Linked DNA regions of Homo sapiens. The protein of the gene in region 2 purifies or fractionates together with the protein of the main gene of each other region. This does not show direct contact. Each region holds a gene or a part of one and is shown on either strand. Other genes may lie near its edges. The genes, in order: OMA1 and KRT86.

Region 1 (3,818 bases), on a different chromosome or scaffold from region 2:
AGTCCTCTGCTCAAATCCCTCCACTATTGTCCCATCTCTGTGAACAAAAGCCAAAGTCCTTACAGGGGCGATAAGGCCCACGCCCTCCCCCTTCCCTTGCTCACCCCATTCCACCCACACTGGTTTTCTTCTTGTTGCTCCTGCCCCACAGCCTTGTACTCTTCCCCAAGACAGCCACAAGCCTGGTTCCTTCACTTATTTCAAATCTGTGTTCAAGTGTCAGCTTCTCAATGAAACCTTCTTTGACTGCTGAAGGACCCCATTTTACACTGCTATTCCTGCACCCCTCCCATCTCTGCTCACACATAACTGTGTGCTAAGGACTCATGTGTTCCTCTAAAATTCATATTTTGAAGTCCCAACCTCCAGTGTAACTGTATTTGGAAATAAGGCCTAAAAGGAGGTAACTAAGGTTTAATGAGGTCTGAAGGGTGGGGCCCTGATCGAATAGGATTAGTAGCTTTATAAAAAGAGACATAAGAGAGCTGCCTCTCCCTCCTCACTGCCCCCCACTCCCGCCCCCAGCACCAAATTTATTATCTGTCTCCCTTTACTGCAGAATAAGCTTCATGAGGACAGGGATTTTTGTCTATTTATTTCACATCACCTACAACCTGGCATATAACAGATGACTGATAAATACTTGTTGAATGCATAAAGTGTAAATTTAAAACATTTTAAAAGTTGATAAGCTACAGTAAGAAACAATACATTTTTGTGATGATATGCAAGGGATCCAATAAGAAATAAAAATATACAATCTTCAATAAGCTAAAGTTTAAAAATCAAAATGATCAAAATTTGTGTTCTAATCACAGACCCACAGAATCCTGCTTTCTTGGTTTCCTATTTGCTTTCTTGATTTCCTATGAATCTGATCCAACACAGGCTCTGTCTTCCTCCCACCCATTAAATGTGGAAAATATGCAATACTGTTACTTTGATCTTTTTCTCTAATCACTTCCTACGTGAACTCATCCATTCTCATTGCTTCAACTATCACTTCTTTTTAGATGACTCTGAAACTCTGAAATCTTCATCTCTGGCCTGGATTTGTCTGTGCTCTCTAGTGCTGTATTCTCAACTGCCTTTGAGGGGAACATAACTTCACCATACTGCTAGAGATGTCAAAGGACAGGAACCTTAGGTAGAACATAACATACTCACTAGAGCATGCTACATAAAATATAATTTCAAAATGTAGTAGTAGTATACAGACTCACATAATTCTATATACTGCCTGAGAAACTGCCTTCTTTCATTATATGTCAGAAATTAGACTACAATAATAGGGAATTCCAATCTTTGAGTTATGACTGTATATTCTAATTAACAATATACCCTTGTACTATCAGTTTCACTTCAACCACTGAGTTATTCCCAATATTGCAATAGAGTTTTATTACTTTCAAATTGAATTTAATCACTTGGGGTGGGGAATATAAGAAATTATATGAGGTTTTCAAATTAAGTTTCTGAACTAGGATAGTTTATTTTTAGAAGAAAAATGTCTCACGTCTTTGTCTTCATCATTTGCTCCCAAATAAAATTTGTTTCTCTAGCCATTTTTCTTCCTACTCACTAATCAATTCATTATTATTTTAAAGACATCTCTAAAGCACAGTTTTTACCTCTCCGAAGATGCTCAGTAATTTGATGATGAAATGACAACTCAGAATTTAGGAGTCTTCACATGAAAAGTTGGCTAACAGAATTTATTATCCAATTAAACAAACCACATATTTTTAGAATTTCATTGAGCGAAAATAAAAAGAAAAAAAATTCAAGAGAAAATCATATTGTTATCATTGCTTTAGAGACAGGCCCAGGCCTCCCAGGGTGCGATAAAGTCCCAGGGGCCTTGGATAGCACAAAGGACCCTCTTATAGTCAGTGATCCTCAGTACAAGTCAGTTACTGAAGAAATACATAATGTCCCATGCCTATACTACCCTTTTAAGAGGAATAATTACTACATATTATATCAGGTAAATTTCACTGCTATTTCTTTCTCAAATTTTTTTTTCAAATTAAGAATACAAATGAAATCTAGTTAAGATAGCTGCTGATATAGAGTGAATGTCTGTGTCCTGTCAAAATTTATATGTTGAAATTCCAACTCCCAATGTGATGGTATCAGGAGGTAAGCGCCTTTGGGAGGCGATTGTCATAAGGGTGGAGCCCTCATGAATGGGTTAGCACCCTTTTATAAAAGAGGCTTTTGAGAGCTCCCTTGCCCCTTCTACCATGTGAGGTTACAAGGAGAAGATGGCTGTTTATGAGCTGGGAAGTGGGCCCTCACCAGACACCAAATCTGTTGGAAATTGGATCTAAGATTTCACAGCCTTCCAAACTGTGAGAAGTAAGTTTCTGTTGTTTATAAGCCACCCAGTCTATGGTATTTTTATTATTGCAACCTGAACAAACTAAAATAGGTGTTAAGAAGCCATGCTTGGCTGTCCTCAATGCTCACAAAAGGCACGAAGTATGCCTAAATTACCAACAAATCCTGTCATCACTCCTTTCAAAATATATCCAGAATCTGACTGATTCTTTCCCCATTTTCTGCTACCAGATATCTTGGTCCAAGCCACCATCATCTCCTACCAGGATTATGAGAGTCTCCTAAAAAGTCTCCCTGACTCCACCGTTGCCCCACTAGTCTACTCCACACAATAATGCCAGTGATCACAATAAAACATGAGTCAAATCAAGTCACTCCTCTGCTCAATATCCTCAACTAGCTTCTCCTATCACTTGAAGTGAAAGTCAAGTCCTTACAATGGCTTAGAAGATCCTGCGTGGTCTGGTCCCCTTTCACCTCATCTTGAACTGTTCTTCCCTTCCCTTACTCCATTCAGCCCCAATGTCTTCCTTGCTATTCCTTGAACACATCAAACATACGCTGACTTTAGGTTCTCTGCATCAGCTGCTTCCTCAGCCTAAAAGGCTCTCTCTCCCTCCACACAGCTAAAGGACTTGCTCCCGTGCTTCCTTCCGGATTCTGATTAGTGAGGCCTTCCTTGACAACCGAACATAGACTAGTACCCCTTCTCTGCTGCCCACCCCTCTCTAATACCTTTAATCTGCTTTATTTTTTCCCAAGGTACTTATTATTGCTTGGCATACTATATGTTTGTTTCTTATTTGCATTACCTAACTAGAATGTTAACTCCAAGAAAACAGACTGTTTTGTTCCTTGCTCATTCCCCAGCAATAGAACACAGAATAGTAGATTAATCAATAAGTATCAATAAATATCGATCTACCTAATGAATGAATAAATCTTGCACTAGAGTTTCTTATCCCAAACTAGAAGCAGATTCATCTTCCTTCAAACTGCATACCGTTTTTATTTTTCTTATGATAAATCATATCCTTGTACTAATAATCATTTTTTATTTATCTTAGCATCCTGTAAATATCAAGAACCATATCTTATTCCTCTTTGTATCCCCCACATCTAGCATCATTTCTTTCTTTTAAGAGGTACTCCGTATTTGTTGGGCTGAATTTGAAGTCATACTGAAAGATACTTCTTTTTTTTTTTTGAGACAGAGTCTCACCCTGTCGCTGACTAGAGTGCAGTGGCACGATCTCGGCTCACTACAACTTCTGCCTCCAGGGTTCAAGCGATTCCCCTGCCTCAATCTCCCGAGTAGCTGGGATTACAGGCGCATGCCACCACGCCCGCCTAATTTTGTATTTTCAGTAGAGACAGGGTTTCACCCCGTTGGCCAGGCTGGTCTCGAACTCCTGACCTCAGGTGATCCACCCACCTCAGCCTCCCAAAATGCTGGGATAACAGGCATGAGAAAG
Region 2 (4,618 bases):
TTCCCCCTTAAGGATCCAGACCTTGCTCTGAGGCTGCAGAGCCAATGAGGGATTGGAGATTGTCCATGGTTGCAAGGAGTGAGCACACCTGTTCCAAAACTTGTGTTTGTTTGTCTGTATGGCAAGATGAAAAGAACCTGCCCACCTGTCTACCTTCAGGGTGAAGATTTGAAACCGGCTATCTAGGATGGCTGAGAGAGAGCCTTTTACGTCTAGTATGGAGAAACTCCTAATATGAGCCAGGATCCCAGAAGCATCCAATGCTCTTTGGCATGTAATGCTGTGGTTATTGTTTCCTAAGGAAAACTAGCAAGAAGAATATCCATTCCTCACGGGAACCTAGAGTTTATACTCTTCAGGAGGAAAAATAATAAGACCTTGGTGAAGTGTATTTGCTGCTTGGGGAACCAGAACAGCTGTGGCTGGTGGGACCCTGACCATGATGGCCCACCCACTCACTCTGCCCCCTCAGAACCTCAGCAGCTTATCCCTTCTCAGAGTCACCCATTCCTGTACAAGGGAGATCTCTCTCCATGAATACCCTTCCAAGCCTGAGACACTTGCATCTGCAGAAAGCAAGAAAAGACCGGGAACAGAAGCCCTTCCCTCCATGGAGTGAGACTTGAGCCAGCGGGGGTGTGAGAGGGCTGGGAGGTGGGTGGGTTAAGAGAGGAGGCTAAGAGAGAATGGGAGAAAGAAAACATCCTGGAGGACTAGCTCCTTTCTAAGGCTCACAAATGCAAGTGCTTGCAGAGGCCTAGCTGGAAGCATCAAAAGGTGAAGGCTAAATATACATCAGGAGTACCCAGTTCCACAAATACATCTGCCCTCTCCCATTTCCTGAAATCACCAGCACCTCTTTTATATTTTCAGACTTGCATTTCTCTGGCGACATTGACTCAGCACCTTTTCTCTTCTACAAGGATAATAACTTGCAGCCAGGACAGTGATAAATGGCAAGGGACCCTCTGCCTCACATCCAAAGGATGGGATTGGGAGTGGTGGGGACTGCGGCACACCAGGCAGCCTATACCGCATGTGAAGAAGAGAGAGATGATAGAGGCCTCTCTCCTCTAGCCAAATGTTGCCATTTGAGAATCATAATTTAACATTGCCAGATCTTCACATTTTGAAATAGAACCCAGAAAACTGGGTTTCTAGGTAATATCTTGCAATTTCTGAAGATGGGCTCAAATGTAATACTGAGCGAGAAAAACAAAACACAGACATAAAAATGAACATACACAAGTAAAAAGATAATAATGTACAAACAAGCATATATCTTCATACAGATTTACCTACATGTTCATTACTTACATAAAATACACAATGTCCTAGGCAGAGGTAAGCATGATATATGCATGCAGCTGCACTGCTGTATGCTTAGACATTCACTAAGAGAAAGTGTAGCCATCTAATCCAAAGGGTAGGTGGGGAGGGGCAGTTGTCATAAATAATGGTCACCATCCCACCATGGCCACTCTGTTGCCCCCCACTCCCACCTCTCACCTGACTCTCAGCACTGCCCACCTCCACCGTCAGCCACTGGATGGCCTGATTAAGCCTGTTCAGATCCTCCTTGCTGGGCTTCAGGCTCTGCGTGTGTTTCTGCACAGTTGCCTTTAATTCCTCACACTGTGGAGCAGACGGCAGAGGGGAGCTGTAGTCAGGAGGTGAGGAGGCCAGACAGGGCTGCCCATCCACCTGCTGTCACCAGTGGTCACCTAGCTTCTCTGGGCATCCCTTTCTCCATCTGTGAAATGGGAGTGATCATTTTTCCTATCTCCAAAGGTTGTTGAAAGAACACAGTGAGCTTGCCTTGTGCCCATGGGGCCAGAAGATGCCAAAGGAAGCCTGAACTCAGGCAGGAAGGGCAGCAACACAGGGCAGTGATCTGTTGAGGGGAGCTTTGGGACCAAGATCACATAGGGTTTATCCCAGGAACAGGGAGAGTTAAACTCTAGGAAACTGATTATTGTAGTTTACAACATCTAACCATTTAAATTAGTACAAAAAAAATTAATGAAATTCAATATTTCCTAATTTAAAAAACACATTTTAAAATCTAGGATTAGGAAGAAATGTCCTTAATTTGAATGCCATTAATCAGAAACCAGGGACAGTGATCTAGATTCCAGCTTCTTCCCCAAACCCAAGGCTGCTATGGGAAGTGCTGTCTATGAAATCAGGGGACCACTTCCCTTCTTGCACCTCGCCCCCATGTGCATTCAATACACGAATAGCCAGGGAACAATAACTCACACTTGCACAGTGCCTGATGCTTTTCACAAGCTTTTACTCCACGATCTCACTGGGGCCTCACAACCACCCATGAAGTTGGCCAGATGGATGTGACTTTTCCCATTGTCTTTCCTCAGGCAAACTGGGGCTCATTCCATCCACCACGTGCAAGAGGGGAGTGAGTGACCCTGCCAGCCGACAGTTGAGCCAGACTACATTTTAAGCCCATGCTCTTTGCTCTCCACCAAGGTTATACACACCCCCTCAACCCAGAGAGCAAGAACTGTTCACACCAGCCCATTGCAAACTTTCTTCTAGGGCAGATGGAGTGTGGGGGAACAGACCTCAAAACATCATCTCAATTTCTGCTGTGTTCCCACTGCCCCCAACTTTTCTGCTCCTGTTCCCAAAAGCTGTATGCCCAACAGATCTGGGTGAAGTCCAAGACACCTCATCCCTGTGTGACCAGGGAGCCACGTGTATGAGTCTCACCATGGAGAAAGAACTGTGGTCTCCTCCAAGCCTCTCTTGAGCACCAAAGCCCAGCTTCAGCCCAAGAGCTACCAGAATCCTTGCCACTGAGGACTAGGGCCTCTTCTTCCTGGGGGCTCTGTGACCTCATCTCATTACAATCACAGAGTTCTGCCCAGGAGGCCTCAGGGGCATAGGGTAGAAGAGGGCCATACTCTGACCCCAGGTGGGAAAATGGAAGTTTCTGGGCTGAAGTGGAACTTAAAGGAAAGTGGAGGAGGGGAAGGCTACCTCAGGTGGAGGAAATGTGTGGAGCTGAGGAGCTTAGGCTTATGGATGGGCACTGGGGAGCCACAGAGGGTGTCTGAGCAGGACAGTGGCCTGACATGAGATGTGATTGTCTAGAAGCAGTGCAGAAGATTGACAGGAGGGCAAGAAATTGGGACTGGGGATGCCAGTCCCAAGACTTGGTAGGAAATCTTGGGTAGGGCAATGACTTTAACCTGTAGGAATGAGTAGGGGCTAGAGAGCACAAGCTGTGGTCAGCATTTTCTTTTTGTTTTATAAATTTCTCATATATGCAAAAGAGTATGCAAAACCTACATTTATTGATTTCAATAGCAACAATAATAAAACAAATCCTTGTGTACCCACCAGTACCTTCAAAGCCCCCTGCGGGATTTTTGCTGATCCATCTCCAACCCCATCTGATCCCCAAAGTAACCACTGTCCTGAGTTTTTATATTGGTCATTCCCTTGCTTTTCTTTATTACTATGTCATAACGTGTATCCATAAACTAGTGTTGAGTTTTGCCTACCTTTAAGTTTTATATAAATAGAATTACACCTTGTACATTTCTATGACTTGCTTTTTCCTCCTCAACATACTAGTTTTGAGATTCATCTTTTTGATGCATGTAGTTTTATTTCTCAGTGTTGTATAGTATTCCAAAGTATGACTACATATATATAGATAGATACAGATATAGACACACACATATACATATATCTCTATTTTCCTATAGGTAGCACATGTGTTTTTTGTTTTTGTTGTAACAAACAATGCTGCCATGAACTTTCTTGTACATATCTGCTGGTGGACCTCAACAAGAGGTTCTTTGGGGTACTAGTTGTCAAACTGTTTTTTAACCTCAACTCTAAATAAGAAATATATGTTGTATCATGAATCACTACCTACGTACAAATACACCACATCTACTGAAATAAGTTTCATGGAAAAATCATTTACTTCTACTATGTGTAAGGCAATCTGATCTAACCAATCACCTTAACACATTCTTTTACTTTCAACTTATGTCCTCATGTTTTAAGTTTATTTCTTATAACTAGCATATTACTTTATTATTATAATATAATGAAAATGAAATACTCATGAACCTACTTACTGATCCCAAAACTAAAATCTTACTAGTAATTTACATTTAGCTCCATGCTCCTTCCCTACCCTGTCCTCTCCTAACCACCCCAGAGGTAACCACTTCCCTAAAGTTGATATAATTCCTTTGTTTTTTCTTAGCTTTATCAAATACATGCATATGCCTCAATATATATTTGTTTCAGTTTTTTTGTTCTTTTTTTATAAAAAGTGTGTCACACAGGGTCTTGTTTTATTCAACATTATGTTGCTAGTATTCCTCCATTATAATATTAATATTCCATTCTTATAGTATTCCATTGTGTAACTATACCACACTTTAGGTAATTCTATTACTGTTTTGTTTTGTTTCTTTCTCTTACAAAGGTGGTGCCATGAACATTTTTCTACATGTCCTCCGATGCACATATGTGAGGATTTGTATACAACTACAAACAGAACTTCTGACTCATAGGATGGTCAGAATCTTATAAAGGTGTTAACTTTATAAGATAATATAAAATTATTTTC

What was found.
Region 1: the proteins of KRT86 (region 2) and OMA1 purify together in Homo sapiens (affinity purification with mass spectrometry; one large-scale study listed by BioGRID and IntAct). This does not show direct contact.

Annotation. Positions count from the first base shown.
Region 1 is NC_000001.11:58,501,423-58,505,240, forward strand, and holds part of OMA1 (metalloendopeptidase OMA1, mitochondrial precursor), read right to left. Parts: intron 1-3,818. UniProt on the Homo sapiens protein: Metalloprotease that is part of the quality control system in the inner membrane of mitochondria. Activated in response to various mitochondrial stress, leading to the proteolytic cleavage of target proteins, such as OPA1, UQCC3 and DELE1.
Region 2 is NC_000012.12:52,272,838-52,277,455, reverse strand, and holds the start of KRT86 (keratin, type II cuticular Hb6), read right to left. Parts: upstream 2,812-4,618; 5' UTR 2,737-2,811; coding exon of another isoform or gene 2,734-2,736; exon of another isoform or gene 2,379-2,733; intron 1,636-2,378; coding exon of another isoform or gene 1,510-1,635; intron 1-1,509.